Linked DNA regions of Homo sapiens. The protein of the gene in region 1 purifies or fractionates together with the protein of each later gene. This does not show direct contact. Each region holds a gene or a part of one and is shown in the gene's direction. Other genes may lie near its edges.

What was found.
Region 2: the proteins of SLC15A3 (region 1) and RRP12 purify together in Homo sapiens (affinity purification with mass spectrometry; 2 studies listed by BioGRID and IntAct, with this or other methods). This does not show direct contact.
Region 3: the proteins of SLC15A3 (region 1) and NOM1 purify together in Homo sapiens (affinity purification with mass spectrometry; 2 studies listed by BioGRID and IntAct, with this or other methods). This does not show direct contact.
Region 4: the proteins of SLC15A3 (region 1) and ATP2B1 purify together in Homo sapiens (affinity purification with mass spectrometry; 2 studies listed by BioGRID and IntAct, with this or other methods). This does not show direct contact.
Region 5: the proteins of SLC15A3 (region 1) and RABL3 purify together in Homo sapiens (affinity purification with mass spectrometry; 2 studies listed by BioGRID and IntAct, with this or other methods). This does not show direct contact.
Region 6: the proteins of SLC15A3 (region 1) and RRP1 purify together in Homo sapiens (affinity purification with mass spectrometry; 2 studies listed by BioGRID and IntAct, with this or other methods). This does not show direct contact.
Region 7: the proteins of SLC15A3 (region 1) and PGAP4 purify together in Homo sapiens (affinity purification with mass spectrometry; 2 studies listed by BioGRID and IntAct, with this or other methods). This does not show direct contact.

What each region holds. Positions count from the first base shown.
Region 1 is NC_000011.10:60,941,602-60,946,109, reverse strand, and holds part of SLC15A3 (solute carrier family 15 member 3), read left to right. Parts: intron 1-2,273; coding exon 2,274-2,421; intron 2,422-3,964; coding exon 3,965-4,075; intron 4,076-4,508. UniProt on the Homo sapiens protein: Proton-coupled amino-acid transporter that transports free histidine and certain di- and tripeptides, and is involved in innate immune response. Also able to transport carnosine.
Region 2 is NC_000010.11:97,373,218-97,377,725, reverse strand, and holds part of RRP12 (RRP12-like protein), read left to right. Parts: intron 1-3,831; coding exon 3,832-3,896; intron 3,897-3,988; coding exon 3,989-4,151; intron 4,152-4,508.
Region 3 is NC_000007.14:156,955,646-156,960,153, forward strand, and holds part of NOM1 (nucleolar MIF4G domain-containing protein 1), read left to right. Parts: intron 1-2,960; exon of another isoform or gene 2,961-3,211; intron 3,212-4,205; coding exon 4,206-4,508. UniProt on the Homo sapiens protein: Plays a role in targeting PPP1CA to the nucleolus.
Region 4 is NC_000012.12:89,600,543-89,605,050, reverse strand, and holds part of ATP2B1 (plasma membrane calcium-transporting ATPase 1), read left to right. Parts: intron 1-704; coding exon 705-896; intron 897-1,125; coding exon 1,126-1,339; intron 1,340-1,796; coding exon 1,797-2,008; intron 2,009-3,617; coding exon 3,618-3,725; intron 3,726-4,508. UniProt on the Homo sapiens protein: Catalyzes the hydrolysis of ATP coupled with the transport of calcium from the cytoplasm to the extracellular space thereby maintaining intracellular calcium homeostasis.
Region 5 is NC_000003.12:120,696,657-120,701,164, reverse strand, and holds part of RABL3 (rab-like protein 3), read left to right. Parts: intron 1-2,591; coding exon 2,592-2,742; intron 2,743-4,508. UniProt on the Homo sapiens protein: Required for KRAS signaling regulation and modulation of cell proliferation. Regulator of KRAS prenylation, and probably prenylation of other small GTPases. Required for lymphocyte development and function. Not required for myeloid cell development.
Region 6 is NC_000021.9:43,795,780-43,800,287, forward strand, and holds part of RRP1 (ribosomal RNA processing protein 1 homolog A), read left to right. Parts: intron 1-1,642; coding exon 1,643-1,772; intron 1,773-1,851; coding exon 1,852-1,916; intron 1,917-2,127; coding exon 2,128-2,321; intron 2,322-3,790; coding exon 3,791-3,870; intron 3,871-4,508. UniProt on the Homo sapiens protein: Plays a critical role in the generation of 28S rRNA.
Region 7 is NC_000009.12:101,473,914-101,477,173, reverse strand, and holds part of PGAP4 (GPI-N-acetylgalactosamine transferase PGAP4), read left to right. Parts: intron 1-4; 5' UTR 5-81; coding exon 82-1,293; 3' UTR 1,294-3,260. UniProt on the Homo sapiens protein: Golgi-resident glycosylphosphatidylinositol (GPI)-N-acetylgalactosamine transferase that catalyzes the N-acetyl-beta-D-galactosamine transfer from an UDP-N-acetyl-alpha-D-galactosamine to the 4-OH-position of the first mannose of the glycosylphosphatidylinositol (GPI) of a GPI-anchored protein (GPI-AP).

The sequences.
Region 1 (4,508 bases):
GACATAGAAGGATCAATCGAGTCCAGGAGGTTGAGGCTGGAGTGAGCCATGATGGTGCCACTGCACTCCAGCCTGGGTGACAGAACAGGAAAAAAATAAAAAAAGAAAAATGAAAAAAAAGGAAGTGTGAGGATGATCAGGGTCTTGACAGTGAAGATGGTAGTAAGGATAAGGATGATGGTGTTGGTATCTACACTGAAGACACAAACATTGGCAATGCGGATGACAGTGGCATTAAAGGAGAGGATGATGGGGATGATGTTTCCAATGAAGGCTGTTAGGATACAATGTAAATAATTCCACATTACCCTGTTACTAACCATCACAGCGTCTTAGGAAATCGGCCAAACTCGCTCCCTCCTCATTAGCTGACATCCAAAGGAGGAAGGTTCTGAATGACCTTGCATAGGTCCCATGGCTTCCTTTTGCCCCTCGCCTTCCTAAATTAACTGTCTACTTATGCCAAGCAAATCTGTCTCCAGACCTTGCAGCCAGTTACAGCTCCTGTCAATAGGATCTAAATGAAAAAGGTGAAGAACATGCTTTCCCCAGTCTGGCATATTGCTAGAGGTTTGTAAGTTGTCAGGAGCCGAGAAGTGTGGTGGTTTTCATTACCTATCGCTGCCTAACAAACCACACCAGAGCTTAGTGATTTAAATGACCTTTTTATCTCCTCTCCCAGTTCTGAGTGACTGGGCTCAGTCGGGCCGTTCTGCTTCTCGTGATGGCACTGGGGTTGCAGTCATTTGGGACCTGGAAAGGGCTAGAACTTCTGAGTCTGCTCACTTACATGGCTGGCAGTCAATGTGGGCTGTTGGCTGTGAGCTCAGATGGGACTGTGTGGACCAGAGCACCTTGGTTCCCATTCGTGTGGTCTTACCATGTGGCTTGAACTTCTCACAGCGTCGTGTGAGGGTTCCAAGAGGAGGGAGCTTTCCAAGAATGAATGTTCCGGGGAGGAAGAAAGCAGAAGTTATGGGTCTTCTTAAGGTCCTTAAGAGGCGTTGAAGTCCCAGACCACCACTTCTGCTTCATTCTAACAGGTCAAAGCTGTCACAAGGCCAGCAGGGAAACAATGGCAGTGAAAGTAAACTCCACCTGTTGGTGGCAAAATGGCAGCACACGCTGGGAAGGGTGGAGTTGACAGTGGCTGTCTTTGGAGATGACTACACTAATATTGTCCCTTTTGGAATCTCAAAGGACAGTGCAAGGCTCTTGGACAAAAAGAGGTCAGAAAGCTCTCAGGACAAAGGGCAAAGGGCAAAGGGTAAAGGCTGCAGCAGTGATTGATCAATCTTGTCGCCTACTGATATTCCCTCTACCCCCACCTCTCCACTCTCTATGCCTTGTCATGGAGGGAGAGGGTTGCCATGTTGACTGTTGAGGAGGATGGACTTGAGACAGCAAGGGGGGGGAATTTTGGTGTATCAAATCTGTGACAGCGTCTCTCTCTGAGTCAGGCTTGGACTGGGACTCCCCTGGTTCCCGTGGCAAATTGATGCTACGAGCCAAAAAATCCCTTCAGACTGTTTTCCACAGTCTCTGGTCTTACTTCCCTCAGGACTCAGAGGGGCCACAGCTCTAGAGCGGAATGAGTCTTGGCTAGGCACTTTTGCAGCAAAAGAGAGGATAGAATAATATTGGCAGTAGTGGTGCCAACATTGAAAAAGAGTGATGGTGATGTGAATGGAAACCCCGTGGAGAGGACGATTTTGCTGACAGCAGTCACCTTACTAAAGGTGATGATAGTAAGGATGCTGGCCTTGGCGATGGTGGTGATGATGGCGAAGGTGGTGCTAACAGCGGGGTGGAGGAGATGAGGGTACTGATTTCAGAGACGTGCTGATACTGGGAGGAGGATTAAATTAGGGGGTGATGGTAGAAGTGAAAACGTTGGCTGAGGTGGTGGGGAAGATTATGGCTGCTGCGTTTGTTTGTTTGCTTGTTTTTTGAGAGGGAGTCTGGCTCTGTTGCCCAGGCTGAAGTGCAGTGGCACAGTCTTGGCTCACTGCAACATCCGTCTCCCAGGTTCAAGCAATTCTCCTGTCTCAGCCTCCCAAATAACTGGGACTACAGGTGCACGCCAAAACAGCCTGGCTAATTTTTGTATTTTTAGTAGGGACGGAGTTTCATCATCTTGGCCAGGCTGGTCTTGAACTCCTGACCTCAGGTGATCCACCCGCCTCAGCCTCCCAAAGTGCTGGGATTACAGGCATAAGCCACCAAGCCCAGCCTTGACTGTTGTTTTATCTGCTGCCTCTGGGGTCTCACAGAGACCGTCAATGTGCCCGCGTGCTGGCCGACGAGAGGTCTCCCCAGCCAGGGGCTTCCCCGCAAGAGGACATCGCCAACTTCCAGGTGCTGGTGAAGATCTTGCCCGTCATGGTGACCCTGGTGCCCTACTGGATGGTCTACTTCCAGGTGAGCATACCTGCCCTTTTTCTCTGGGGGCCTGGCTCCCCACTCACCATCTGAATGGCCTCATTTCTCATCACAGAGGCCCAGGGCATGTGGAAAGGGGGAAAGTCTGGGAATAAAGTGAGGTGCTGCCCCGTACCAGCTAGCATGGGGCCTGGCACAAAGCCGTCTCAGCAATCCAACTCCCTCGGTGGTACGGCAAGAGGAACTCTGGAGACAGCTTCCTCCTGCTATACCTCCTGCGGGAGTTGAATTACTGGGATGGCTTTGTGCCAGGCTAGGTCCTTGAATAAGTCACCTCATCTCTCTGGGCCTGTTTCCTCATGTGTACAATGGGTGGCTTAAACGAGAGGCTTTTCCAGCTCTGCTGCATTCAGATTGTCCGACTTGGTAGCTGAGGCCTAGAGAGGGTGTGTCAGTTGCCCAAGGCCCCACGGCAGGCAGGTCAGGGGCAAGCTCACAAAAGTGAGTACTTTGCAACAGTGGTTCCCCAGCCTGGCTGTGCTTCAGAATCACCGGCAGAGCTTTTAAAAATATGCTGTTTTAAAAACAGATTCCAAGTCCAACCACAGGCTATTGAATCAGAATTGCTGGGGAAGTTTCTAGTTTAAGAAACTTTTCAGATGATACAGATACTCAGAGTTGAGAACTATTGTCTTCCACTCACCATATTACTCCTCAGTGGGGAGGTTAGTGATGTGTTTGTGTGTGTGTGTGTGTGTGTGTGTGTGTGTGTGTGTGTGTGTGTGTGTGATAGGAGGGTGGGCAGCAGCTTAATGCTAGCCCCCAGGCCATAAGGTCATTGCCTTCCATACCCCCTTCACAGGAACATTTGTTGGAGCTCCCAGCCTGCTACTTAGGGGCACACAGTATTTCTATGATGAGATGGCGGCATGTGGTGGGAGGGTGTCCATGGCTGATTCTCAGTCATACCAATCAGATACTGACTTCCTTCCATACCAGTTGGTAAATGGCTGCTGCCCTGAGCAGTCCACATGCTCTCCCCTGCCCCAGCCCTTCCTGTGGGAGTCTCCTGGATCCTACTCCATTATATAGCAACTAAAGGGGCAGTGCGTGGTATTGGAGGTGGCCCCTGGGCCCTGCTCCTGCAGCTGTGTCCAGAGCCATTCTGGCAAGTCCATGTCTATGCAGTGCTTGTGTCAACCTGTGGACTCAGCTTGGCTTCAGTGTCAGATGAGAACTCCCTGTGGGGGCAGCCATTATCTTTCCCATTTCAGCAAACATTTATCCATGCTTACCCTGTGCTGGGCCCTGGGGACACAAATACTAGTCAGACCAGCTGTGCCTGGGCTCTGGGATAAGGCTGCACGCACTGCCTACAGGCCTGAGAGCAGAGCACAGGAAGCTCCCTGCCCAGCCCAGCTACCTAGGAGAAAGGAGGGTGGGAAGGTGACTATCTCCCTGAGACTGGGAGAGGGGACAGCTGCCCAGCTGTCCTGTGGTACGGCGCTGAGGAATGCCACCTAGGAGTTGGGAGGGGGCATGGCCGTTTCTGTTCCAGCCTCACCCCTGTCTCTCTTGGCAGATGCAGTCCACCTATGTCCTGCAGGGTCTTCACCTCCACATCCCAAACATTTTCCCAGCCAACCCGGCCAACATCTCTGTGGCCCTGAGAGCCCAGGGCAGCAGCTACACGGTGAGAGATAAAGCATGTGTTCGGCACCCAGTTCAGCCAGGTAGCGGCTTCCTCTGAGAAGAGGAGGAAATGAAACTGCCTTCACACTCCCCTTTCCTGCCTGCAAGGCAACCTCAGGATACAGGAAAAGCACCTGGAGGGTGGGAGGACTTGTGTCACAGCGCAGGGATCCTGCCAAGATGCTCAACTGCTTGAAGGAATTCAGGCCAGCTGCACACCCCCATGCTGCTGCTCTGAAGCAGGTCTCGCTGCCTAATTTGCACCCTCAGATCAAGCATACTTAGGTCCCTTTTCAACTCTTCCTTGTCCCCTCTTTCTCTGGGACCCTTAGATACCTAGATCTCTGCCTTTCCCAGAACTTTCTAAACCAGTTCCTTGGCATTTCAGACTCATGAAATGAATGATCTGCAGAGCTGGCAGATATATGAGAAAT
Region 2 (4,508 bases), on another chromosome or scaffold:
ATTACAAGCACCTGCCACCACACCCAGCTAATTTTGTATTTTTAGTATAGATGGGGTTTCACCATGTTGGCCAGGCTGGTCTTGAACTCCTGACCTCAGGCGGTCCACCTGCCTCAGCCTCCCAAAGTGTTGGGATTACAGGCGTGAGCCACTGTGCCAAGCCTGTACATACAATTTTATTGAAACACAGACACATACACATTTATTCTTGTTCTGTCACCCAGGCTGGAGTGCAGTGGCACGATCTCAGTTCACTGCAACCTCTGCCTCCCAGATTCAAGCGATTCTCCTGCCTTAGCCTCCCAAGTAGGTAGGACTACAGGCATGTGCCACCACACCTGGCTCACTTTTTAAAAATTTCTTGTATTTTTAGTGCAGATGGGGTTTCACCATGTTGGCCAGGCTGGTCTCAAACACCTGACCTCAGAAAATCTACCTGCCTCGGCCTCCCAAAGTGCTGGGAGTACAGGCATGAGCCACCATGGCCAGCCTGTCACACTACTTTTTAATGACAGAGTTATTGTGATAGAAATCATACGTACCGTGGGCTGGGCACAGTGGCTCACACCTGTAATCCTAGCACTCGGGGAGGCCGAGGTGGGTGGATCACCTGAAGTCAGGAGCTTGAGACCAGCCTGGCCAACATGATGAAACCCCATCTCTACTAAAAGTACAAAAATTAGCCAGGCATGGTGGTAGGTGCCTATAATCCCACCTACTCGGGAGGCTGAGGCAGGAGAACGCTTGGACTCTGGGGGGCGGAGGTTGCAGTGAGCCAAGATCGCACCACTTCACTCCAGCCTGGGCAACACAGCGAGACTCTGTCTCAAAAAAAAAAAAAAAAGAAAAGAAAGAAATTGTATGGCCTGCCGAGCTTAAAGTACTGGTCCTTTTGCACAAAAAGTTGGCTGACTCCTGGTCTAGGGCAGTGGTTCTCAACAAGGAGGGTGATTTTGCTGCCTGTAGGACATTCAGCAATGCCTGGAGACATTTTTGGTTGTTACCGTTGGGGGATGGGTGCTCTGGCATCTAGTGGGTAGAGGCCAGGATGCTGCTAAGCACCCTGCAATGCACAGGACGACCTCACACAACAAAGAGTACTAGGCCCAAAATGTCCACATTGTCAAGATTGAGAAACCCTGCTCTAGGGCAGTTTCCTGATTTCACACATGATCTTGTAGAATATACAGGAAGTGCTTAAAGAAGAAAGTAAGGCCAAGCGCAGTGGCTCGTGCCTGTAATCTCAGCACTTTGGGAGGCTGAAGCGGGCAGATCATGAGGTCAGGAGTTCGAGACCAGCCTAAACAACATGGAGAAACCCCGTCTCTACTAAAAATACAAAAATTAGCTGGGCATGGTGGCACGCACCTGTAATCCCAGCTACTTGGGAGGCTGAGGCAGGACAATCGTTTGCACCCAGGAAGCAGAGGTTGCAGTGAGCCGAGATGACACCACTGCACTCCAGCCTGGGAGACAGAGCGAGACTTCATCTCAAAAAAAAAAAAAAAAAAAAGAAAGTAAAAGTCATTCAGTCTTCCCACCCAGAAATTGTTACTACTCAAGTTTTTAATGTATTTTCCTTTGCTTTGTTTGGGTCGGTTTGTTTGTTTGTTTGTTTGTTTTGAGACAGAGTCTTGCTCTGTTGCCCAAGCTGGAGTGCAGTGGTGCGATCTTGGCTCACTGCAACCTCCACCTCCCAGGTTTTCAAGCAATTCTGCCTCAGCCTCCTGAGTAGCTTCGTCTACAGGCGTGTACCATCACCCCTCGCTAATTTTTTTATTTTTAGTAGAGACAAGTTTTCGCCATGTTGGCCAGGCAGGTCTCGGACTCCTGACCTCAAGTGATCCACCCGCCTTGGCCTCCCAAAGTGCTGGGATTACAGGTGTGAGCCACCATGTCTGGCTGCATTTTTTTCTGTGTAAAAATAGTATTGTATTTCTACTCTGTTGGAATTAATGTGCACATATTAGTAACTTAAAGTTTTTCCTGATATTAAAAAGGAAAAATTTGTTCTATTTTCAATAGAAATATATGCCCATCAAAGAAAATACAGATGAACCCCCAAAATGAGGGTCATTACCATCATTAATGTTACCTATAAACCCTGGCATTATTCTTAAGGCTGATGTTATGTATTCCCTTTGTCCTGGTAATACTACACGCAGGTATCTGTCCTGAGAAGATAGACAAGTGCGTACTGATTTATGTTCCTAGCAAAGACGTGCCTGACAGTATTGGCTTATACTGGCAAAAACTGTAACACATCTAGTATCTTTCTCATTAGGGTTCCAGTTAAATTAGTTATGGTAAAGCCCTACTTTTGGCCAGATGCAGCAGCTTACGCCTGTAATCCCAACACTCTGAGAGTCTGAGGCAGAAGGATTGTGTGAGGCCAAGAGTTCAAGAACAGCCTGGGCAACATAGCAAGACCCTGTCTCTATAAAAATTTTTTTTTTTTTTTTTTAGTTAGCCAGGTGTGGTAGGCTCACCTGTAGTTCCAGCTACTTGGGAGACTGAGGAAAGAGGATTTCTTGAGCCCAGAAGTTCAAGGCCAGCCTGGGCAACAGAGTGAGACCTCCGTCTCTACAAAAATATTTTTTAAGTCCCACTTTGGGATATGATGTAGGCATTATAAAGAAAGAAAGAAACCACTAGGTAGGGACAGACAAGTTTAGCAGATGGTGAGTCGAACAGACACGGTTTATATCCCAACTCCGCCGCTCCACAGTTCGTGGCTTGGGGCAGGTTTTGTTTAATTTCCCAGGGTCTGCTCCTCATCTTAAAATGGGCAAGTTTTGTGAGGATTAAATGAAAAAGTCATGTGAAGTGCTCATTACAGACTACCACATAGTACTTGCTCAGTAAATGTTACCAGCTTTATTGTCAAGTAAACAAGGTTACAGAATGCTATATATATAGTATATTCCTCCCTATGGTTTTTTTTTTTTTTTTTTGAGACAGAGTCTCGCTCCGTCACCCAGGCTGTTGTGCAATAGCACGATCTCGGCTCACTGCAAGCTCCACCTCCCGGGTTCACTCCATTCTCCTGCCTCAGCCTCCCGAGTAGCTGGGACTACAGGTGCCTGCCACCACTCCCGGCTAATTTTTTGTATTTTTAGTAGAGACGGGGTTTCACCATGTTAGCCAGGATGGTCTCAATCTCCTGACCTCATGATCTGCCCGCCTCAGCCTCCCAAAGTGCTGGGATTACAGGTGTGAGCCACTGCACCCAGCCCCTGTTTATGTTTTACAAAGTGGGCATGTGGCTGGGTGCAGTGTTGCACACCTGTAATCCCAGCACTTTGGGAGGCCGAGGCACATGGATCGCTCAAACTTAGGAATTCGAGACCAGTCTGGGCAACATGGTGAAACCCTACGTCTACAAAAAGTTAGGTGGGTGTGGTGGCATGCACGCCTGTAGTCTGCTTCTTGGGAGGCTGAGGTAGGAGGATCGCGTGAGCCTGGGAGGTCAAGGCTGCAGTGAGCCCAGATTGCGCCACTGTATTCCAGCCTAGGCCACAAAGTGAGACCCTGTCTCAAACAAAACAAACAAACAAAAAAAATTGGGCATGTGTTTAAAGAAGTATAAAAAAGTAACAAGAAACAGAGGCTATCTCTGGGGGAGTAAGAGTATGGAGAGACGTTTGCTTTCTGTTTATTATAGGTTCATTTGAGTATTTTAGAATGAACAAGTATGATTTAATTCATGGAGATGGGGGGAAGTCACCCATATTCCTGTCCTCATCATTGGGCTTTTGGTTTGGTTTGGTAAATAAGGCTGTTGGCCAGGAGGGTGCTGGGCTCACACTCTGTCCCTCTGTCACACTGCAGCCATGGACCTGGCTCAGGCAGGCAGCACAGTGGAATCTAAGATCTACGACACACTCCAGTGGCAGGTAAGGGTCAGCTGGGGGAGGGCGTGGGGAGAAGCACACAGGGGCACAGGTGGCTGCGTGTCACCTTCCTTTATTGTCCCCTCCTTCTCCAGATGTGGACACTCCTGCCTGGGTTCTGCACAAGGCCTACAGATGTGGCCATCTCCTTCAAAGGGCTGGCACGGACGCTGGGCATGGCCATCAGCGAGCGTCCAGACCTGAGGGTCACCGTGTGCCAGGCCCTGCGCACCCTCATCACCAAGGGCTGCCAGGCAGGTACGTGTGGGCTGTGGGAGTGGGGGCTGGGGAGGATGACACAGGTCCCTGGCCCCATCCCCTGGCTTGCTACACTCCTTGCCAGGCAGAGCCACAGAAACTCACCTCTGGAGCTCATCCTTTGCTGCTTCTGCTGCAGACCCCAGGGGATAACTTTGCTGGCTCCCTGGGGTTGGAGCCATCGAGGACCATGGGCCACTGGGGCACCAGGCTCTCCATGCCCTGGCTCAGCTTCTGCCACAGAGAGCCCCAAACCCATGGATTCCAAGTCCTGCCAGCTCCCCCAAGAGAGGGCCTCTGGGCCACAGCCCCAGCAGCCACTGAGGCACAGTCAGCTCCTGTGCCTTTAGTGCAAAC
Region 3 (4,508 bases), on another chromosome or scaffold:
CAGGGCAGACCTTTACTGAAGCTTGCTTTGCAGTGCAGCAGGCAAAGCCGCTGAAGCGCTATGTGAAATTCCCAAGATCACGTCTTGTTAAAAGTACACAGAACTTGTTTTCTGGGCTCCTAGGCAAGCATGCTTTCTACTGCAATGCTAGTCACATTCATTTCATTTTTATATTACTTTCTCTCAATTATAATCTTAACAGTTATTTAGAGTCTTACCAAGTGGGGCTCTCCAAAGCTTGCTTTAAGATGCACATATTTGCCGGCCGGGCGCGGTGGCTCACTCGTGTAATCCCAGCACTTTGGGAGGCCGAGGCGGGTGGATCACGAGGTCAGGAGATCGAGACCAGCCTGGCCAAAAAGGTGAAACCCCGTCTCTACTAAAAATACAAAAAAAAATTAGCCAGGCATGGTGGCGGGCGCCTGAAGTCCCAGCTACTCCGGAGACTGAGGCAGGAGAATGGCGTGAACCCAGCAGGCGGAGTTTGCAGTGAGCCGAGATCGCGTCACTGCACTCCAGCCTGGGTGACAGAGCGAGACTCAGTCTCAAAAAAAAAAAAAAGATGCACGGATTTGCCAAAATGAAGTAGCCTTCTTGTCACTGGGGCTTCTGTGCTGAAGGCGGCATGGGGTGGGTGGAGATGCTGCCTGAGTACAAAACATGCTGTAACGCGCACGGTCTGTGTCACTTAGATGAACTTGTGCCTCCGAGTCTTCCTGTGTCCAGTCGTTAAGGTCAACGAGTTAGTTCATGTAATAGGCATAGGAAAGAGCTGGCCCACAATAAGCGCTCATTGAAGGCTCATTATTTATGTACAGAAGGAGATTTTCGTGTTTTAATTCTGTTCTTCCTCTGGCTGGCTTTTCCTACCACTGCTGATTTCTTTGTTGTTGCTAGATAATGTTCTGATCCACATTTTTCCATGTCTAGCAGTAGTTGCATGGTGGCAGCTTTTTGAAAGGCCTGTGGGGCATTAGGAAGCTGAGGGCTGGAGAGAGGGGCACAGGCCTGAGCATCTGAGTGCGGGACTCTTCTGAGCTACATGGGTCATCTCAGATATGAAAATCTGCACCAGCTGCTTTGGGAACCCTCTTGTTATTTTTTATTTCTAAGAGCTGTCCTCATTTTCATGTATGAGCATGTGGGAGTCTGTTTTCTTGTCATTACAAAGTGATGGAATCACTGGGTGCCATTCCTGGGCCCTGTGATTACCATAATCAGGGCCATTCTGTGACTTTCTTGGTACCTCCCTGTCCTCCTAGAGGACACTGGTATGCTTCAGCTGACTTAATCATCAGAATGATCTTAGTATAGGCAGTATCTCAGTGAGTTACAGGAAAAGCCACAGACCGTGACCACCCACAGCACATCAGGAATTTACTTGATTGGAAAACATGAGATAATTGGGCCTACTTTCATTTAAACCTTTGCTAATTGCATGAAGGACAATGAAATGACTTGTTCCGAAGGGAAGTCATTACAGTACTTTAGTTAATGACATCCACAGAAACTTCTGCCAGCGTGTGATGAGCTTTCAGGGTGCTGGCTCCATTCAGCTGCTTTCAGTCCTGTACCGAGAAAAACATTCTGTGTTAAAGACGATGGTGTCAGCTGCTGAATTGCTTCTGTAAGTCCTTTAAAACTCAAAAACCCAATCTATGTAGATTCATGTTAAAATTTCCACATCAGAGTTAACGTACAGGATGTGCTTGAATAACTTTACCAACGTGAATTTTACTTATATTCTTAAATGTTATGCTGTTATATTTTATTTTGAAGACATTAAATGGAACTTCAGATTTAGAATTTTGAGAAATTTTGATGTAATATACATAATTGAAAACATACAGCCGGGTGTGGTGGCTCACGCCTGTAATCCTAGCACTTTGGGAGGCCGAGGCGGGTGGATCATGAGGTCAGGAGATTGAGACCATCCTGGCTAACATGGTGAAACCCCGTTTCTACTAAAAATACAAAAAATTAGCCAGGCATGGTGGCAGGTGCCTATAGTCCCTGCTACTCGGGAGGCTGAGGCAGGAGGATGGCGTGAACCCAGCAGGCGGAGCTTGCAGTGAGCCGAGATCGCACCACTGCACTCCAGCCTGGGCGACAGAGCGAGACTCCGTCTCAAAAAAAAAAAAAAAAAAAAAAAAAAGAAAAAGAAAATATACATGAATATGTTTTATGCCTAAATTTTTATTGACGTCTGCAGAATTCTAATTTACTTTTAAAAATTATATTTGACTATAACATGGTTGCCATAATAGAATGTGTCTTCCAGTTTATCTTCATTGAAGGGGCTTGAATGGAAACTACAGGTTGGCTTGGTTAAGTCTCAGGTCTTTACAAACTGAAGTGTATATCCAGTCCATCAGAGCTGGCCTCCAGGAAGTCACTGTGGCCTCCCGCCAGTCTGTTGCCTTTCTCTGGATTCTTCTAGCGTTGATTTCTTTGCAGTCCAGCAATGATGTCTGTGTACTTCCCCATACACTCAAGACTGTCTGGTGGATCTCAGCCTTGCCTGCGATTTTCACTGACACCCTTAGATCTCCATCCAGTCCTGTCTGGATGGCCCCTGTTGAAGCTTAATAACCCCTGAGCTGGTCTTGTCCAGCCCCACTAGCTTGCTGCCCCTCACGTAGTTCCTGGTTACCCAGACCAGAAACCTGGGAGTCACAGATCCTTCAGCTTTTACAGCCGGTGTCACACACTGCCATGCGTTGCTGTGTTACCCAGGCCCTTCATCCCTGGTCCAGCGCAGCTGCGTTATTTAGGCCATCGTCTCCTGGCTGGGCTGTGGGGGTCACTCTTTGTCACCACCATGTCCCTGCTTCCGCCTTCTCCCTCCAGTCCCAGCTTAAGTTGAGATTTGACGGAAAATGATGACACGGTAGTGTTGCCAGCAAGACTGAAAACGACTGTTTTCTGCCTTCAAGTTTTATTATCTCTCTTTTACACAGTGAAAAAACAGGGTTCCAGGAACTTGCTGAAGACCACACAGACCCACATGCAGGTCTTCTCATCCTTCAGTCCACAGTTACGGAATTCGGGATAAAATGTACCAGAACAGCACAAGGAGAACACTTAGGCCTTGCTTAGCTCCACCAGGCCCGGCAGTTCCTGGCCCCACTTCCGCCCCTCAGGGCAGTGTCTGGTTTACCTGCTGGTCCCCATCAGGGCCCAGTGCCCCTCAAACCACTGGCTGAGCCAAGTGAGTGTATTCACAAGCTACCTTAGTGCCAGAGACTCAGCCCTGGGAAAGTAGGGCGTCTCCTCCGTGCCACCTGGAGCCCTTCCAGAGATTATTAAGTACCTGTCTATTTGGCAACCTCTGATATTCAGAATGTGTTGCGTTTATCTGTTTTAGAAATCACTCGTATTGCTTCCTTGTAAGAAATGAATTTGGGGTAAAAATCTGCAAAAAAATCTTTTAAGAAATGAATATTGTTAGGTAGTGGAACTTTTTTTTTTTTTTTACACAGAGTCTTGCTCTGTCGCCCAGGCTGGAGTACAGTGGCGCAATCTCAGCTCACTGCAACCTCCATCTCCTGGGTTCAAGCGATTCTCTTGCCTCAGCCTCCCAAGCAGCTGGGATTACAGGCATATGCCACCACGCCCGGCTAATTTTTTGTATTTTTAGTAGACACGGGGTTTCACCACGTTAGCCAGGATGGTCTCGATCTCCTGATCTTGTGATCCACCCACCTCAGCCTCCCAAAAGTGCTGGGTTTACAGGCGCACACCACCACACCTGGCTAATTTTTTTTTGTATTTTTAGTAGAAACGGGGTTTCACCGTGTTAGCCAGGATGGTCTTGATATCTCCTGACCTTGTGATCCACCCACCTCCGCCTCCTAAATTGCTGGGATTGCAGGTGTGAGCCACCGCACCTGGCCAGTAGTGGAATATTTTGAGAGACATAGGTGTGTTTTTAACATCATTTTTAACAGTTTTATTTTTCCAAGGAGTCAGAATGGCTGCTGGCCAAACAGTGCCCCTTGGTTGTTGATTTTAACAAGAGGAAGGTGCCCTTGCGTCCAGGCTGGGGCACTCTGGCCGGCTGCTCTGGGTTGCCGAGGGATGCCTTGTTGGAATGCCCTGCCTTGTGGCACTTTGTTAATTTAGAAAGTGCCAGTTCTGTGTGTTGAAGGAGAAAGGAAGGTTTCTAGGAATAACATAATCTTTTTTCTGTGTGGTTCTTTCAGGTCGGTGCCCACTTTCTGGAGGCAGTGGTGAGGAAGTTCGATGCCATCTATAAATACGGAAGCGAAGGGAAAGAGTGTGACAACCTGTTCACCGTCATTGCCCATTTATACAACTTCCACGTGGTACAGTCTCTCCTCATCTTCGACATTTTGAAAAAACTGATTGGAACTTTCACCGAAAAAGATATTGAACTGATCTTGTTAATGCTGAAAAACGTGGGTTTTTCATTGAGGAAAGATGATGCTTTATCACTTAAGGAATTGATCACTGAAGCCCAGACCAAAGCCAGCGGGGCAGGCAGC
Region 4 (4,508 bases), on another chromosome or scaffold:
AGTTGTAGTTCACTCATTTTATTAATCCACAATTTATTAATTACCCCATTCTCCTGTTGATGACATTGTTATTAGTTTGAAGCTTCTAAATGCGTCTTCAGTAGACTTTCAAGAGATCTTCCTTTTTTTATTCCTACCTTCACCCCTACTTCCAGTGCCACGTAAATCTGCCAAGTCTGGAGCTGACAGGGGGGTTCTGTTGTTGGGGGGAAAGGGGGCTACTTCTACTTTCTCTACACTTGGATTAGGATTCAGCTTTCTTGTGTCTGCTGAGTTACTTACCATTTGGCTGTCTGCTTTCTAGCCTCTAAGGTTTTATGGGTTTTTTGTTTGTTTGTTTGTTTTTTGGTAGAATCTCCTTTTCCTCTAACTTTGTCTTCATAGAGTTTGTTTGCTTTTTATTAACAGATACCTTTTTGTGTGGCTTTTGGAAGGAACTTGGGTAATGTCTTTGTTCATTCCTCCATTTTTAACCCAACTTGAACCTTATTTTTAATACTTCATTCTTTGTTTGATTTCTGCTAAACCAGAATGTCTTTCCTAGTAATATCTTAGAATAACTCTGTTACCTTCTTTTAGTGTAAATTTAAGTAATATTTATTAGGTATAATGGTAAACTTTTTGTTTATTAAGTGTGTATTTTTTGACTATTTGAAAGTTATACTTAAAACATTTAGTCTAATTCACAAAATTTTTTTTAACAGGGTATTGCTGGAACTGATGTAGCTAAAGAAGCATCCGATATTATTCTCACAGATGACAACTTTACAAGCATTGTTAAAGCAGTTATGTGGGGACGAAATGTCTATGACAGCATCTCAAAATTCCTTCAGTTCCAACTTACTGTTAATGTAGTAGCAGTGATTGTTGCTTTTACGGGCGCCTGCATTACTCAAGTAGGTGATGACTTGTCTATCAAAACTTGTTTACTTTAAATTTAAAAAGTATATTAAATGCCTCTTAAAAAATACTTAATATTTAAGCTGAAGCTTAATATTTTAGGTTAGTTAATATAAAAATATAATCCTGTTCTGTTTCTCAAGTTTTTAAACCCTAAAGGTTTCCTGAGAATTGCTGAGCCCCTGAGTAGTTGTGAATGTCTATTAGGAAACATATCTTTTCTAGGACTCACCGCTTAAGGCTGTGCAGATGCTGTGGGTAAACCTCATAATGGATACACTCGCTTCCCTGGCTCTGGCAACGGAACCACCCACTGAGTCTCTCTTGCTTCGGAAACCTTATGGTAGAAATAAGCCTCTCATCTCACGTACAATGATGAAGAATATTTTGGGTCATGCATTCTATCAACTTGTAGTAGTCTTTACACTCTTATTTGCTGGTAAGAATTCAGTGTCTAATAAAGCTTCAGTTAATTGTTTCTTTTCCAAGCTAATCATCCAAGATGTTATAATGTTACAAATTTTCAAGAGCCTAAATTCTACTCCTGACTTCCCATTTATCTTTAATTTCTTCTTAATCAGTGAGTGCTTAGTAAATTTGGGAGGACAATAAGCTAGATAGTAGAATAAACAGGAGAATAAACAGTCCTGATGTCTTACCCTGGCTCTCCACTAATTTAGATATGTGATCCTGAGATTATCACCATAGTTTTGGGAGCTTCTGTTTCCTTGCCTATAAAACAAGAGAGTTGTACTAGATAATCCCAGGTTTCTCTAGCTCCTTCCATGCTGCCATTTCAGATCAAATAAAAGGTCTAGCTAAGTTGTAATTTGTATACCTCCTTGAAATCTAATTTGGTATGATAATTACAAAATAGTCATTTTTCATTCTTTCAGGAGAAAAGTTTTTTGACATTGATAGTGGAAGAAATGCTCCTTTGCATGCTCCTCCTTCAGAACATTATACTATTGTTTTTAATACCTTTGTGCTGATGCAACTTTTCAACGAAATAAATGCCCGGAAAATTCATGGTGAAAGAAATGTATTCGAAGGAATCTTTAACAATGCCATCTTCTGCACAATTGTTTTAGGCACTTTTGTGGTACAGGTGGGTAATTGGAAAAGATAGTTTCAAATTTGCCTGTTAAATGGGAGACATTAGGTAAACAGCTTGTTCTAGCAATCACTTGTGTGGAACATGTGTGGAACTGTTGCCTTGGTGACATATATAATATCATGGTGATTTAAGGTATATGTTAAAGAATATGGGAACTGAATCTCCTGTTCTTAGAAGTAAATGCCACAACCAACTAGACAAACAGTTTTATTTCTTCCAACTGTAAAGTGAAAGATATTATTTCTTAGGAAACAAAGTCAGCCAATCAATTAATTGTTTCCCAGCATTTTAGTATTCTTTTTACATCCCACATTATACCAAAAAAAAGATCAGGTTTAAATTTTAAAAAAAATTAAGATCACTTGTACAAATACATATTGAATTCTTCATGCTCATTATTTTCTTGATTTATAAAAGAAAATTACTTCAGTTTTATATCTCTACTAAAATCCAGACCTGATTGTCAAATCAGTTGTAATCTAATTGGGCTACTAACAAAGCAGTTGGAAATCTATCTGTACAAGTGCACAAATTAACTTAAAAAATAGTGGAACCGAGAAGTGAAAATGACTTGAATTTGAATAAAGTAGAGCTAAAAAGAAAGGAATTGTAACTTTAAGGTTTTAAAATGTTAACTACCAAAATTATTTTTGATTTTAATATTTGGGAACTAGTTAACTGCCATATCAAAGAGAGGCCTGTCAGACTCACAGGAGGGTGAATATTGTTAATTGATTCTTTTTTTAAAAAATTATTTATTTTTTAATTAAGACAGGGTCTTGCTATGTTGCCTAGGCTGGTCTTGAACTCCTGGGCTCAAGCAGTCCTCTCACCTCAGCCTCCAAAAGTGCTAGAATTACAGGTATGAGTCACCACACCCAACCCCAGTTAATTCTTAATATTTCCATGCACACTATTTTAGGCCTTTTAGAATAACAAGCAAAACATAAGCACTGTATTATGAATTTATATTCATCATCAGACCTCACTCTTTTCATAAAGGAGAGCAAATCTGAGATCACCTCACCTGAGTTAGCCCATATTTCATAGAACTTTCCAAGTTGCCTTTCTTCTCATATAGTCTGTGTTTATCTTAGTATGTCTAAATGTTAACTAGAAATAAACAGCTATGTGGAATTTTTTTAATATTGTGCATTTTTCCAGTAACATACAGTCTTTTCTACAAAAGAGTACTATATTTTGAGAAAGGCACAGATTATTTGAAGAGTTGTACTAAATACAGGGGAATGTAGTTGCTTGGGGTTATATTGGAAACAGTATAAAATTATTATTCTTGGTCATAAGAATTTTACTTTTTAGTAAGCGTAATTTAAACATGAAATACGCATGCATCAAAAATATTGGGCAGAGATTTTACTTTATTTCAGTTGTCTTTTTTTCTAAGAGGCAAAGTGGACTGGAGGGGAAAGAGGAAAGGTCTATTTCAGTTGTCTTATTTTCAGTTGTGACTAATATAATACAATTCATCAGAATAGTGGTTGTTCACCTTGTTTTAGAGGACATAAATTTGATATTTTTTTAAGTATATGAATTTTAAAATTTAAGATTTAAGTAAATTTACTCTTGATTATTCCTCCAGATAATAATTGTGCAGTTTGGTGGAAAACCTTTCAGTTGTTCAGAACTTTCAATAGAACAGTGGCTATGGTCAATATTCCTAGGAATGGGAACATTACTCTGGGGCCAGGTAAAAATTTCATCAGTTTTTGTTTAAACCTAAAGTGATTTTTTTTTTTAATTTCTAGTGTGTATTTTCTTTAACAGTTTCATTACTTGATTCTAAATGGTTAATGTGGTGAGTAAAGAGAGGGCATTCAAAGATAAGTTTTTTTAATGTCGTATTAGTTCCAGTATGTCACTTGTTCATTATGATTATGCCTGTACTATAAAATACTATCCTAACTTTTTATGTGTTTTTTTAACTTGTTTTTTAGAAGTTTTGTAGCGGTTTTTAAAAATGATGTATTTATAACTGGTTAGGATGCTAATATCTGTATCTTTTACTCTATAACCTATTTTTACATTTTCAGAAAAAAATTTTTTACAACAATGTAAAAAATACATGGCCGGGTGCGGTGGCTCACGCCTGTAATCCCAGCACTTTGGGAGGCCGAGGCGGGTGGATCACCTGAGGTAAGGAGTTAGAGACCAGCCTGGCCAACATGGTGAAACCCCGTCTCTACTAAAAGTATAAAAATTAGCTGGGCATGGTGGCAGGCGCCTGTAATCCCAGCTACTTGGGAGGCTGAGGCAGGAGAATCGCTTGAACCCAGGAGGCAGAGGTTGCAGTGAGCCAAGATCGCGCCATTGCACTCTAGCCAGGGAGAGAAGAGCGAGACTTCATCTCAAAAAAAAAAAAAAAAATACATTGTCATTTTGTTCTGTAATTTAATCCAATATGCAGCATAGGAAAAACTGACCTTAGAGAATGTTTTTATAAAAATAATGTTACCTGGAAAAAGGGGTCACA
Region 5 (4,508 bases), on another chromosome or scaffold:
AAAATGCAGAGAATATATATCGTATACCTCCTATTGTATAAGAAAGAAAAGAAATAATATGTATTTATATTTGGATAAAGAATCAGTGAAAAATAAGAAACTAATAAAAATGGTAACCTATAGGGGGCCAGGGGAGATGGGTGGATGGGTACAGTGGTAGGAGCAAGACTGCTTAGCATATATCTTTTATATCAGTTTGAGTTTTTAGCCATATTTAAACAATTTAGGTAAATTTTATATTATGTAGTTTTTACCACAATAACTTTTTTTAACTTTTTATTATAGAAAATTTTAAACATATGTAAATACAAAGAATGGAAAATGAACTCCCATATACCCGTTGCCTAGTTTCAACAATTATCAACATATAGCTAGTCTTGTTTCATCCATATCTCTACCCACTTTCTATCTTCTCCCACTCTCAACTGGATTATTTTGAACCAAATGTTAAAACATCATATCATTTCATCCATATATACTTTAAAACATAAGGGCTTTTTTTTAACATGACACCATATAATTATCACAGCTAAAACTTTAATAATAATTCTTTAATAACCAAATATTATTTTAATTTCCCCAATTGTCTCATAAATGTTATAATTGATTTTTTCGAAATAGTATCTAAATAAGGTCCACTGGTTGTATTTGGTTTCTTAAGTATCTTTTAATCTTAGGTTCTCCCTTTTTGGTTGTTTTTTTTCCAACCTCCTAGCACTTTATTTGTAGAAGAAGATGGCTGTTTGTCTTGTACAGTTTCCTATATTCTGGATTTGCTGATTGTCTCCCTGTATTGTCTTTTAAACTTGTTTCTCTGAATTCTAAATCTTCTCTGAAGTGATAATTAAATATAGTGGTCTGAAAGATGCAAGTTTTTTTGTCTTTATTTTTCCACCCAGTATTATGCATATAATATGATACCTGGCTGTGTGTCTCTTTGTGATGTTAAGGAGCTATCAGCCTTATCCATCCATGATAAAGTTCTTCAGAAGTTTACCAAAGAAGATTTCAAGATTAAATTTTAAATTGGATGCTGCAAGATTTTATGAAAAAGTTAAAAGGAAAGCTAAAAAGAGAAATAAGAGAGCAAACTATATATGTATGCTTTATATGTGTCAGTGTGCAAGGAATTGTGCAAGACTATATGAGAGATGTATGTACATCAAAGATGATATTTGATAGAAGATATGCAAAACTTTGTATGTGAGACAGAAGGAAACAGTCCTAAAGGAAAGACACTCTCAAAACTTCATTCCCTAACAAAGCGAATTGTAGCTTTGAACCATGTCTCTTTAATTAGAGTTGCTGTTGATATGAATAATCAAAGGTCTTGATCATGCTATTATTGGCTTTGATGCAATAAATAGAATGGTAATATTTTTGTGAGATGGGAGGTTGTATAGTAAAACACTTGTGTTCCGAGGCTGAACAGTTTGCTGAGGCGCTGTAAGATTATTGTGAAGGGCATAAATACTTAGTAACTTTGCCCCCTACCCCAATTTAGAATTTCTGTAAGAGAAAGAAAAGTAGTGTTAAAGGAAGAAAAAAAGCTATGCTCGACTGGGTTGTAGTGATTGGATTATGCAATATTGATTTACTGTCATAAATTGTGCACAACCAGATTTTGCTGACTGTTGTAAGTTGAGCTTATAACGTGTCAGAAATCCAAATCTGTTTTATTTCTAATATGTGAGTAGAATTTAAATTAATTCAACAGCAATGGCCTCTGTGTTCTTTTCAGTAATGAGAAGTATCATTTACATCACCACTCTGTTCTTTGGATAAATAAATTTTTTAAAAAATAAGGATTGTAATAGCCAGTGATCCAAGGCCACTAACCCTAAGTGGTTCTTATTGCCCGTCCTCTATCTCCCATGGCTCTCATTTCAGGAAACAACTACTTGGTACTAAGTTCTTTCCTTTTACTATTCATTTTGCATTTCAGCTGTTTCCTTCCATTTCCATGTGTTTAATCCACCTTTCCCAGGCTATAGTATCACCTATATTTGATTTATTCTAGGCTTCAGCTTCCCTATTTCTATTTTCTTATTCTTCTTATTTCTTTACTATTCAGACAGAAATGTGTATTGTAGATATAGAATTAATGCATACCCCAAAAGGTACCCAAGAAGCTTGCCATTTTCTCTTCTAGCACAAGGCTTGAGTGCCATGCTAGGCTTTTGGGTTTTTGCTACGATGAGGCTTAAATCCACTCTCTGCTTCTACTCTGAAATATTCCTGAGCTGTTATGTTAACCTTAGAAGACACAGCTACATTGGAAGTTAAGTCCACTGACTGTAATATACTTGATGGGCACTTAGTTGTTCAATTATTCAGTATTGTTCAATATTCAATAAAAACATGGGACCAAATTTTGAGAAGTTAGATGAATAGCTGGAATCTGATGATGAGGATGGATTGATAAAAGAACAAGTAGATGGAAGAAGTTGGAAGGAAAGTAGGTTTGTAGGTGAAGGCAGCAAAAATCAGTTAATTTTCAGTAAAATAGTGTAACTTAGTTGCACTTAAATATTACACATCTACACCAGAAAGATACATTCTATTCACCTCTTCATTATTATTTATCACAGGGATTATGATCAAGAACAGTTTGCTGATAACCAAATACCACTGTTGGTAATAGGGACTAAACTGGACCAGATTCATGAAACAAAGCGCCATGAAGTTTTAACTAGGACTGCTTTCCTGGCTGAGGATTTCAATCCAGAAGAAATTAATTTGGTATGTATTTTCACTAATGCATGCTTGTATTATTATCGGGTAAAGACAAAACTGAAGACATATTCAAATAATATATTCTAGTGAAAGAAGCTTTATACTTGAAATCAGGCTATTTGGATTCTAGTCTAAACGTAGTCAAGATTGGAATCAACATATCTAGACTGAGAGATGTGCACAGTCACTTCAGCCTTTTATGTTGGTCTGTTGGAATGTTCCAACTTTATTCTATGAATAATTTAAATCATAGGCTTCTTTTTTTGAAACAGAGTCTCGCTCTGTCGCCCAGACTGGAGTGCAGTGGCGCGTTCTCAGCTCACTGCAGCCTCTACCTCCTGGGTTCAAGCGATTCTCATGCTTAGGCCACCTGAGTAGCTGGGATTACAGGCATGTACCACCATGTCCAGCTAATTTTTTAAATATTTTTAGTAGAGATGGGGTTTTGCCATGTTGCCCAGGCTAGTCTTGAACTCTTGACTGGATTTGCCCTCCTTGGCCTCCCAAAGTGCTGGGATTACAGGCGCGAGCCACTGCACCTGGCCCATGGGCTTTTTCTTGAGAAAGGTTTTTAAAATCACACCAAAATTAAAATAAATTGATTAAAGTGGCACTATAAGCATATTATTCTTGCTTTTAAAAAGCCTCTTAGCTTCTTAAACTACAAATTTTACCTTAAAGGGCAACGTAACAAATACATGAAAAAATTGCAAACCTTAAACTAGGAGTGCTTCATAAGGACTAATTTATGTACACTTATGCATATATAGAGGATTGAGTCCCTTGATGAGATAACTAGCTCAATGAGAACTGAGCGCGTAAAAAAGCTAAGAAATGGTTGTCATGTAAGCCTGTTAGGATCCCAGAAAAAGATCCTGGCCAGCAATTTCAGTCATGGTCATGTTGTTCACAAATAGGATTTCTGCAACTGTGCACTGGCATTCCAGAAATGCAGTGGTGGTGGTGTAATAGTACTAGTGAGCAACATTTATTGAGCACTTACGGGTTGAAAACTGTTTTAGTTATTTACATACATTATCTCACATGCATCATCTTCACAATCAACTCTATAAGACAGGTACTATTACTATCCTCTTTTTAAAGATAAGAAGGAGAGACGTAACAAGACCAAGGAAGTTTACCCAGGTCAATTAGGGTATTCAGATTCAGAGCCTGTGCTCTACAGTTAAGCCTCTTTTGCACTTAATTAATCCTTCAACTCACCTTGAGAATTTGGCAGCTGAAAAAACTCTTAGAAATCATCTAGACCAACAGTTACCCAAATCTGATTGTGTATTTATATTACCAATAGTACCTATGGAAAATTTTGAATAACCGTCCCACAGCTGGAGCTTTTTATTCATCAAGCCTGGCAGGAGGACCAGGAATCTGCAGTTTTAACAAATAACTCAGGTGCTTCTGATGCCTTTATTCTATGAATCAATGTTTATGAACACTGCTTGGTTCAGCCCCACCTCTACCCCCAGCTTCTGCCTGCCATTCCATTGTTTTTTACATTCTGCTTTGCAGCGGAGAGCCCCTCATTTTTCTCAGCTGCCACAATGGAATATTTGATGTGCATACCCCAGGTAGTCAGCACTGAACCATGATATTCCAAAGGATTCTTGCTATATAGATATATAATATTCTTGTTGAAGAAGTGCTGAGATTACTTTGAACATTATTTCCAAAGAGAAATTTACCATTGAAAACACTTAATTTGTTTCAGCGCTTACTTTAATATATTTTAGAATGTATCTGTTTCTAGTGCC
Region 6 (4,508 bases), on another chromosome or scaffold:
GGGCTCAAACAATCTGCCTGCCTAGGCCTCCCAAGTTGTAAGCAATGTTAATTGCTCCTAATTCTAAAAATATGTAAATTGGCTGGGCGCGGTGGCTCACATCTGTAATCCCAGCACTTTGGGAGGCCGAGGCGGGCAGATCACAAGGTCAAGAGATCGAGACCATCCTGGCCACCATGGTGAAACCGTGTCTCTACTAAAAGTACAAAAATTAGATAAATGCATAGAAAAGAATTAGCAGGCTGGTTATGGTGGGTTAAGGGGATCTCTTGAGCCCAGGAGTTTGAGGCTGCAGTGATCTGTGACTGAGCCACTGCACTCTAGCCTAGGTGATAGAGTGAGATTCTGGTTTTTTGTTTTTTTTTTTTAAAGAATCAGCAGGAATTGAACTGTGGCTGCTGAGTTTCTCTAGGTTTGAGTTGCATGGGTGATTTTGCATTTAGGGCAGCGGTGCCTCTGGTTTGGAGGGATTTTCATTCTTCTATTCCCTGGCAGGACTCTGATGCCAGGAGTCTCATTCATTCTGGGCCTTAGCATTGTGGATTACCCCATAGGGGTCTCATGGCTTAAGCTGAATTAAATGTTAAAGGGATGATTTTACTTGTGTTAACTTTTTTTGGCATATTATTACAAGAGTACTTTTCTCCCTGTAACTGAGAATTCAGCACAGGAATCATGTGGAAGACCTCGGTGCCTTCCCCCAATGCCTGCTGCGGTCCCAGTGCTGACAGTGGGGTCCGCTCTTCCCGCCCTCTTGGATCTCCTGCAGGCATAACCAGGCTGTCATTAATATCCACGCCATTGCCACTGGCCTGGGAAGTCGGTCCCTTGCATCTGTGTGTCTTCCTCTTGGTCTCAGCACCTGTTCTTGCCTCTGTCTCGTTTTTCCTGAGCCTTAGAGAGCATCACTTTTCCTTTCCATCACGAGTGATTCTCCAGCCTTGCTACGGAGCTTCCTAAGGATCACACAGTTTACAGATCTGAGTTAGGCAGCTGCGTTATTAAGCACCCCAGGAGGTCCAGATGCATGTAGGTGCTACACATTATTCTCTGGGGCTGTCTAGTCTTCAGATCCAGGGCCTGTGATGCCATCAAACCCGCCTGCCAGGGAGAGCTCTGGTGGACGTCACAGTTGGAATGCGTCGTGCGGCAGGGCCCAGGAAGCCAGCAGGTGGCTCATGGTCCTCGGCCCCTTTCTGGGCCTCCACCTTCCTTTCTCTGCCTGTGCTGTCCTGACGTGTCTTCCCCAGCGGTACCCAGTGGAGGCAGTGGAGAGGAACACCAGGCAGGGCGTCTCGTCTCAGCCAAGCCTTTCTCTCTGCTAGCAATCTTGAGGACAGAGGGAAGGCCTGTCTGAATGTTTACACGTGCTGCATTTTGTAGCTGACATGCACACTCAGGCCATACGTTCTGGTGGTGGTGCTGGTCACATAACTCCCTAACTGCAAGACTGCCTTGCGCTGGAGGAGACCTAGGATCGTTGATATCATCTGCGTGGACTTTAAGGCTGGCATGTTTGCAGACAGTGGCGCCTGCCCGCACTTAGGTTCCCATCAGAGCGTGTAACCATGGGAGAGTGGGGGGCACGGCTGTCTTGGGGCTCATCGAGGCTGCCTGTCATGTTTGCTTTTTCTTTCCTCAGACAGATCGAGGAGCTGCTAGAGCTGCTGATGACTGAGATCCTGCACCCCAGCAGCCAGGCCCCCAACGGTGTGAAGAGCCACTTCATCGAGATCTTCCTGGAGGAGCTGACCAAAGTGGGCGCCGAGGAGGTGAGGCTGGGCTCCGACGGGGCGGTGGAGCTGGGCGTTTGTGGAGGAGGAACTGAGCTCCCGCTGGCTTTCCCCGTAGCTTACGGCAGACCAGAACCTGAAGTTCATCGACCCCTTCTGCAGAATTGCTGCCCGGACCAAGGAGTAAGTGGTGGGTGGCCTGATCGGGCCCGACTCCTTCACTGAGTTCTTCCATGGGGCTGCTGTTGTGGGGGTGCTGCTCCCTCGAGGGATGAATCTGTCTCAGAGTGGCCGCTGGCCGTGTGGGTGGGGAGAGGTTGCAGGGGAGTCGGCGGCTTCCGCTTGGGAATCCAGCATAACGGGCCTGCTCACCGGCCTCTGCTCTGCCCCTCAGTTCCTTGGTTTTGAACAACATCACTCGAGGCATCTTTGAGACGATTGTGGAGCAGGCCCCGCTTGCCATTGAAGACCTCCTGAATGAACTGGACACACAGGATGAGGAGGTGGCGTCGGACAGTGATGAGTCCTCTGAGGGTGGTGAGCGTGGAGACGCGCTGTCCCAGAAGAGGTCTGAGAAGCCGCCCGCAGGTGGGGGTCACACTGCGCCTGGCTTCTCCTCGGGGCCTGTCCTGGGCTGAGCCAGTGCGATCTCCTGCTGGGTTGCTCCTGCCACCTCCTACCTGGTCCCCTTGTCTCTGCCCCTCTCCACAGTCCATCCTCAGCATAGAAGCCAGAGTGACTTCTGTGGGCACCAAGCACACGTCGTTTCCCCTCATCCCCCAGCCTCTGATGTGCTCCACGCCCTCTCCGGACCCCTGGGCTCCTCGGTCTAACGCATGCCTCTGGCTCAGTTGGCCCCCTAGACTCGTTCCTGCCTTGGTGCCGAGTCTCTCCGTCCCTCCCACCGTCTCTCCCCCCATCACTCTCTGGGGCTGGACTCTTTCAGCCTCCTGGCCTCTCCCAGCCCCCAACGCAGTCCTCCCCATAGCGTCACTCTGTGGCACGGGATGTGAATCACTTGCTCCTCGTGTTCCTCGTTCCTGGCCCGTCTCCCCAGAGGACAGCAAGCTCTGTCCATATTGACCATGACTGGGTTCAGGCCTGAGACCTCAGGGCACCTGACTGCTCTGTGTGCAGTGTGTGTGAGGGGCAGGTGTACTCACCTGCCCCTCACTGCCTGCCAGAGGCCTCTGTGGGCAGCCGTGGGGTCCAGCCTGGCCCATTTTTTGTTTTGATGCTGCACTCATTGTCCGAGCCTGCTGGGTGGTCTGAGCTCTAAGTGTGGCATCCTGGTGCTGTGGAGGGCATGTCTTTGACCACGCTCAGGACCCCAGTATGCCCCAAATCAGTGCTGTGGCCACTGTTCCCCTTGGCTTCCTAATCAGAAGACCCCCTCCCCACCGCCCCCAGCACTTGGCCCGGCCACCCTGTATGCTTCTCCCTGGTCTCTGCCTTGCCCTTCTCTCTCAGTAGCTGAGGTGCCTGGCAGGTCCGCTAGTGCCTGCTGCTGGCCCCCTGCTGCCAGCTACAGAGCAGACCCTTGTCACATGCTGCCCCACAGCTGCCTGTTGCCCAAAAACCTTTCTTCTGCAGACAGTGCCATCAAAGCCCCAAATGCCCAGCCTAGCTCGAGCACCCAGCCGAAACATCAGCTCCCACAGCTTCTGGACCAGGCCACCCTGAGGCTCCTCACTTCCAGAACTTTTGACATGGCCTTTGTTGCCCAAGATGCCAGCTTGTAGTCAGCCACTCAGGGCTGTGTAGGCACCTGTGCCCTGGGACATCTTTTTTTCCTTTGCAGGCCTGAGGTGGCACCTCTCATCCTGTCCATACGAGATTAGAGGTCACATGGCACCTAGTATCTGCCTTGAGCTGTGGGCTTTCCCGCCTGTGCCCATGTTCTGACCAGGGTGCAGGGTGGGCTGTCCGTTCCCGGGTGTTTCCCGCCTGTGCCCGTGCTCCGACCAGGGTGCACGGAGCGGGCTCTCCATTCCTGGATGTTTGGGGCCAGCACACGTTGGGCACAGGTAGGGTTCACGGGGTCCCTTTTGTTCCAGGCTCCATCTGCAGGGCTGAACCTGAGGCTGGTGAGGAGCAGGCAGGTGACGACAGGGACAGTGGCGGCCCCGTTCTCCAGGTGGGTTCCCTGGGCTCATGGCTGTGCCCTCAGCCTTTGCCCCTCTGTGCTACCGCTTGCTCTGGAAGAGGAGGGGGGCGTTAGGAGGGAGGATGGCAGCTGTTGGCATGGAGAGTTACCCGGACAGGGGTTAGCTTTGAAGGAGGGATGGGTGCCCCAACCCTGCCCGCCTGTAGACGAGTGGGATCATTGAGAGTGGGGCTGGGGCCTGGGAAAGTGGGGCTGGGGCCTGGGAGGGTGGGCTCAGGCAGAACTGCATTATCCAGGGCTGGCCTCACCTCACGCTGTCCTCTTGCCTCACACATGGGCAGCCCCCCAGATTTCCTGCGGCCCCCTCGTTGGGGTGCTGGTGGGGAATGAGATGGCATGTGCCAAGCGGCTGGCCTGTGGGTCCCAGCGAGGAATCCACTCAGCCAGTGGGGTCTGACTTCAGGCAAATTGGAAACTTAAATGTTTTAAGTTTTAAATATGATTATCTGCAGACTGAATAAAATGTGGCTATCTTGGGTTAAAATTGATCAATTTAACCTATGTTGTTCGTGCTTGTCTGTGTGGTTCCTAGAGTGGTAAAGCTGCAGGCAGGCTACCGGCGGGCGTGTGCCCTGCAGTGTGCCCCGCAGTGTGCATCTTCCAGAGTG
Region 7 (3,260 bases), on another chromosome or scaffold:
TTAGGTTTGATTTCTGATGACTCTGGCCTGAGTTCCAGGATGGTTTTTTCTTGGGACCAGACATGAACAAAAGTTGACCTCATGAGCACTTCAACCTCTCCAGCTGCCATGCTCCTCCGGAGGCTGCGGCGACTCTCCTGGGGCAGCACTGCTGTCCAGCTCTTCATCCTAACAGTGGTGACGTTTGGCCTGCTGGCCCCCCTGGCCTGTCACCGACTTCTACACTCTTACTTCTATCTGCGCCATTGGCATCTGAACCAAATGAGCCAAGAGTTCCTGCAGCAAAGCTTGAAAGAGGGTGAGGCTGCCCTCCACTATTTTGAGGAGCTTCCCTCTGCCAATGGCTCAGTGCCCATTGTCTGGCAGGCCACCCCCCGGCCCTGGCTGGTGATCACCATCATCACTGTGGACAGGCAGCCTGGCTTCCACTACGTCCTGCAGGTTGTGTCCCAGTTCCACCGGCTTCTTCAGCAATGTGGCCCCCAGTGCGAGGGGCACCAACTCTTCCTGTGCAACGTGGAGCGTAGTGTGAGCCATTTTGATGCCAAGTTGCTCTCCAAGTATGTCCCTGTGGCCAATCGCTATGAGGGCACTGAGGATGATTATGGTGATGACCCTTCGACCAACTCGTTTGAGAAAGAGAAGCAGGACTATGTCTATTGCCTGGAGTCATCCCTGCAGACCTACAACCCAGACTACGTCCTGATGGTAGAAGACGATGCTGTACCAGAAGAGCAGATCTTCCCAGTCTTGGAGCACCTTCTGCGGGCTCGCTTCTCTGAGCCACATCTCAGAGATGCCCTTTATCTCAAGCTGTATCACCCCGAGAGGCTCCAGCACTACATCAATCCAGAGCCCATGCGGATCCTGGAATGGGTTGGTGTAGGCATGTTGCTGGGGCCCTTACTAACCTGGATATACATGAGGTTTGCCAGCCGCCCAGGGTTTAGCTGGCCTGTAATGCTCTTCTTCTCCCTGTATAGCATGGGTCTGGTGGAGCTGGTGGGTCGGCACTATTTCCTGGAACTGCGGCGGCTGAGTCCTTCCCTGTACAGTGTGGTTCCTGCCTCTCAGTGTTGCACCCCAGCCATGCTCTTCCCGGCACCTGCGGCCCGCCGGACCCTCACCTACCTGTCCCAAGTGTACTGCCACAAGGGCTTTGGCAAGGACATGGCACTGTACTCGCTGTTGAGGGCCAAGGGAGAGAGGGCCTATGTAGTGGAGCCGAACCTCGTGAAACACATCGGGCTCTTCTCCAGTCTCCGGTACAACTTTCATCCCAGTCTCCTCTAGGGTGCCAAGAGATGCCTTTCTGAAGTTGGCCACTTCTTGAAGATTCAAATATTTATCTCTTTATTTAGACATGGTTGCCTGCAGGTATTTCACTGTTTACTGTTGTTAGAGATATAGGCACTGGGGCAGCTGAGGAACCTCAATATGTTAAGAGCCTTGGCTTTGGTAGCCTCCTGGCAGGAGCAGCAGTTTGCCACAGGTCCGGACCTCTCCCTCCACACAGCCACACTGCCTCATGCAGTCTGACCCACCCAGTGAGGGTGCATTTGAACACTGATTATATTCTCCATTTGTTTTTAAGCTCTGCTTTGTGTTAGAGCTTGTGACTGCCAAAAATTTTGTGCACAGTGATATGACTGTTTTAGGATCTTAAGGGTAGAATTTTGTGAAAGGTGAGATCCTTTGGAATTGAGTTCTTTCTCATTGGGTATGAAAATGGATGTATGTTTAGAATATATGCCCAACGAGGCAGGACCATGTGGATAGATTCCATTTGTTTCCTTGACCTGATGTAATAAAAACTGATAAAAGCCGTGCAGTGCCCGGCATCTTGGAGGCAGGTGATCTGGCTTTTCTGTTACCTGGGATTTTCTTTTCCTATATATCTGTAGTGCACTGATAATTGATATTGTTAGTGAGAACTTTAAGGCACGACAAGATCTGGAAGAGCTTGTGAACCATCAAAGTCAGATTGCTTATGTTGAGTAGTGATTTAACATTGAACATTTCTGTACTACTCTGACTCTTTGAAAATTGGACATTTCAGAATGATACAATATAGGGGAGCTCTTTACAAGTAGCATATCATTTTTCCTGACTTTCCTGGCTGACTGCTTACCTTCATTTCTTTTTCTTCTAGGTAGCATGATGTTATAGAAAAAAAAAAAAAAAAATCATGGACTGAAGTCAGAAGACCTGACCTTTTATTTCAGATCTCTGCCATGGCCTAACGACGTGACCACCTTGGGCAGGTCATATAATCACTCTGGGTCTCAATTTCTTCACCTGTAAAATGAGGACAGTAATACTTACATGTTAAAGTTGCCTTGAGGATTAAATGGCAGAATATATGTAAAACACCTAGCAAGTGCTTAGTCCATAGAAGACGCTTGGCAAACTTTTCTCTCCTATAATAAACATATACAACTCAAGCTTATTTCGGAAAAAGATATTGGTGATGTTGTTTAAAGTATGAGATAGGGCATGGAGCTGCCACCTATGTACCAGCTATTCCAGATGACCAAGCCCTGCTAGAATAAAGACTGACTTTTCATTGTGACCTCTGAAGGATGTGCAGCTCAGCTTTCACCTATCCCCACGTTCACCCAAGCCAAAAAGAAGAATTGTTCATTCAAACTGGAAATGATCTCCAGCTTGGAAATGAGACTCCTCATGAGCTTATTCTAAGATCAGAGTCTGAAAATTATTTTCTCAAAAGTTACAAATAAATGTCTTTTAACAGTACTGTCAGACTAGTGACCAACAAGTTACTTTATGAGGATGGATGATGATATTAGAGTTCAAGCAATTGTCCAGTTTGTTTCGATGCCACAGTTTGCTTTTAAATTCCCATAGTGAGCTTCCATCTTGAGACCCACTCAACACAGAAGGATTACATAAAGGTTGATCACCCACGCTCTACAGATGAACAAATTGAGACCCAGAGATGCTAAACTGCTCTGCAGGTCACAAACCTGAACAGCAGCATAGCCAAAATGGGAACGGAGCTCTTCTGACTTCAAGCCCCTGCACTTTTTTCTTAACCACATTAATTTTATGAATATCTATGTGGTCAAAGTCTCTTTTGTAAAATCTGAGTATAAGCTGAACTAGATCATGTCTCTGTAAGCTAAGATGGCAGAAACACATTGTCATGTTAGTTTGGAGGAGCAAACAGATATAAGTATGTGTTGTAATGTTATAGTGAGCTGTTATGTATCCCCCAGCAATGTCCAAAGTGATCAGAG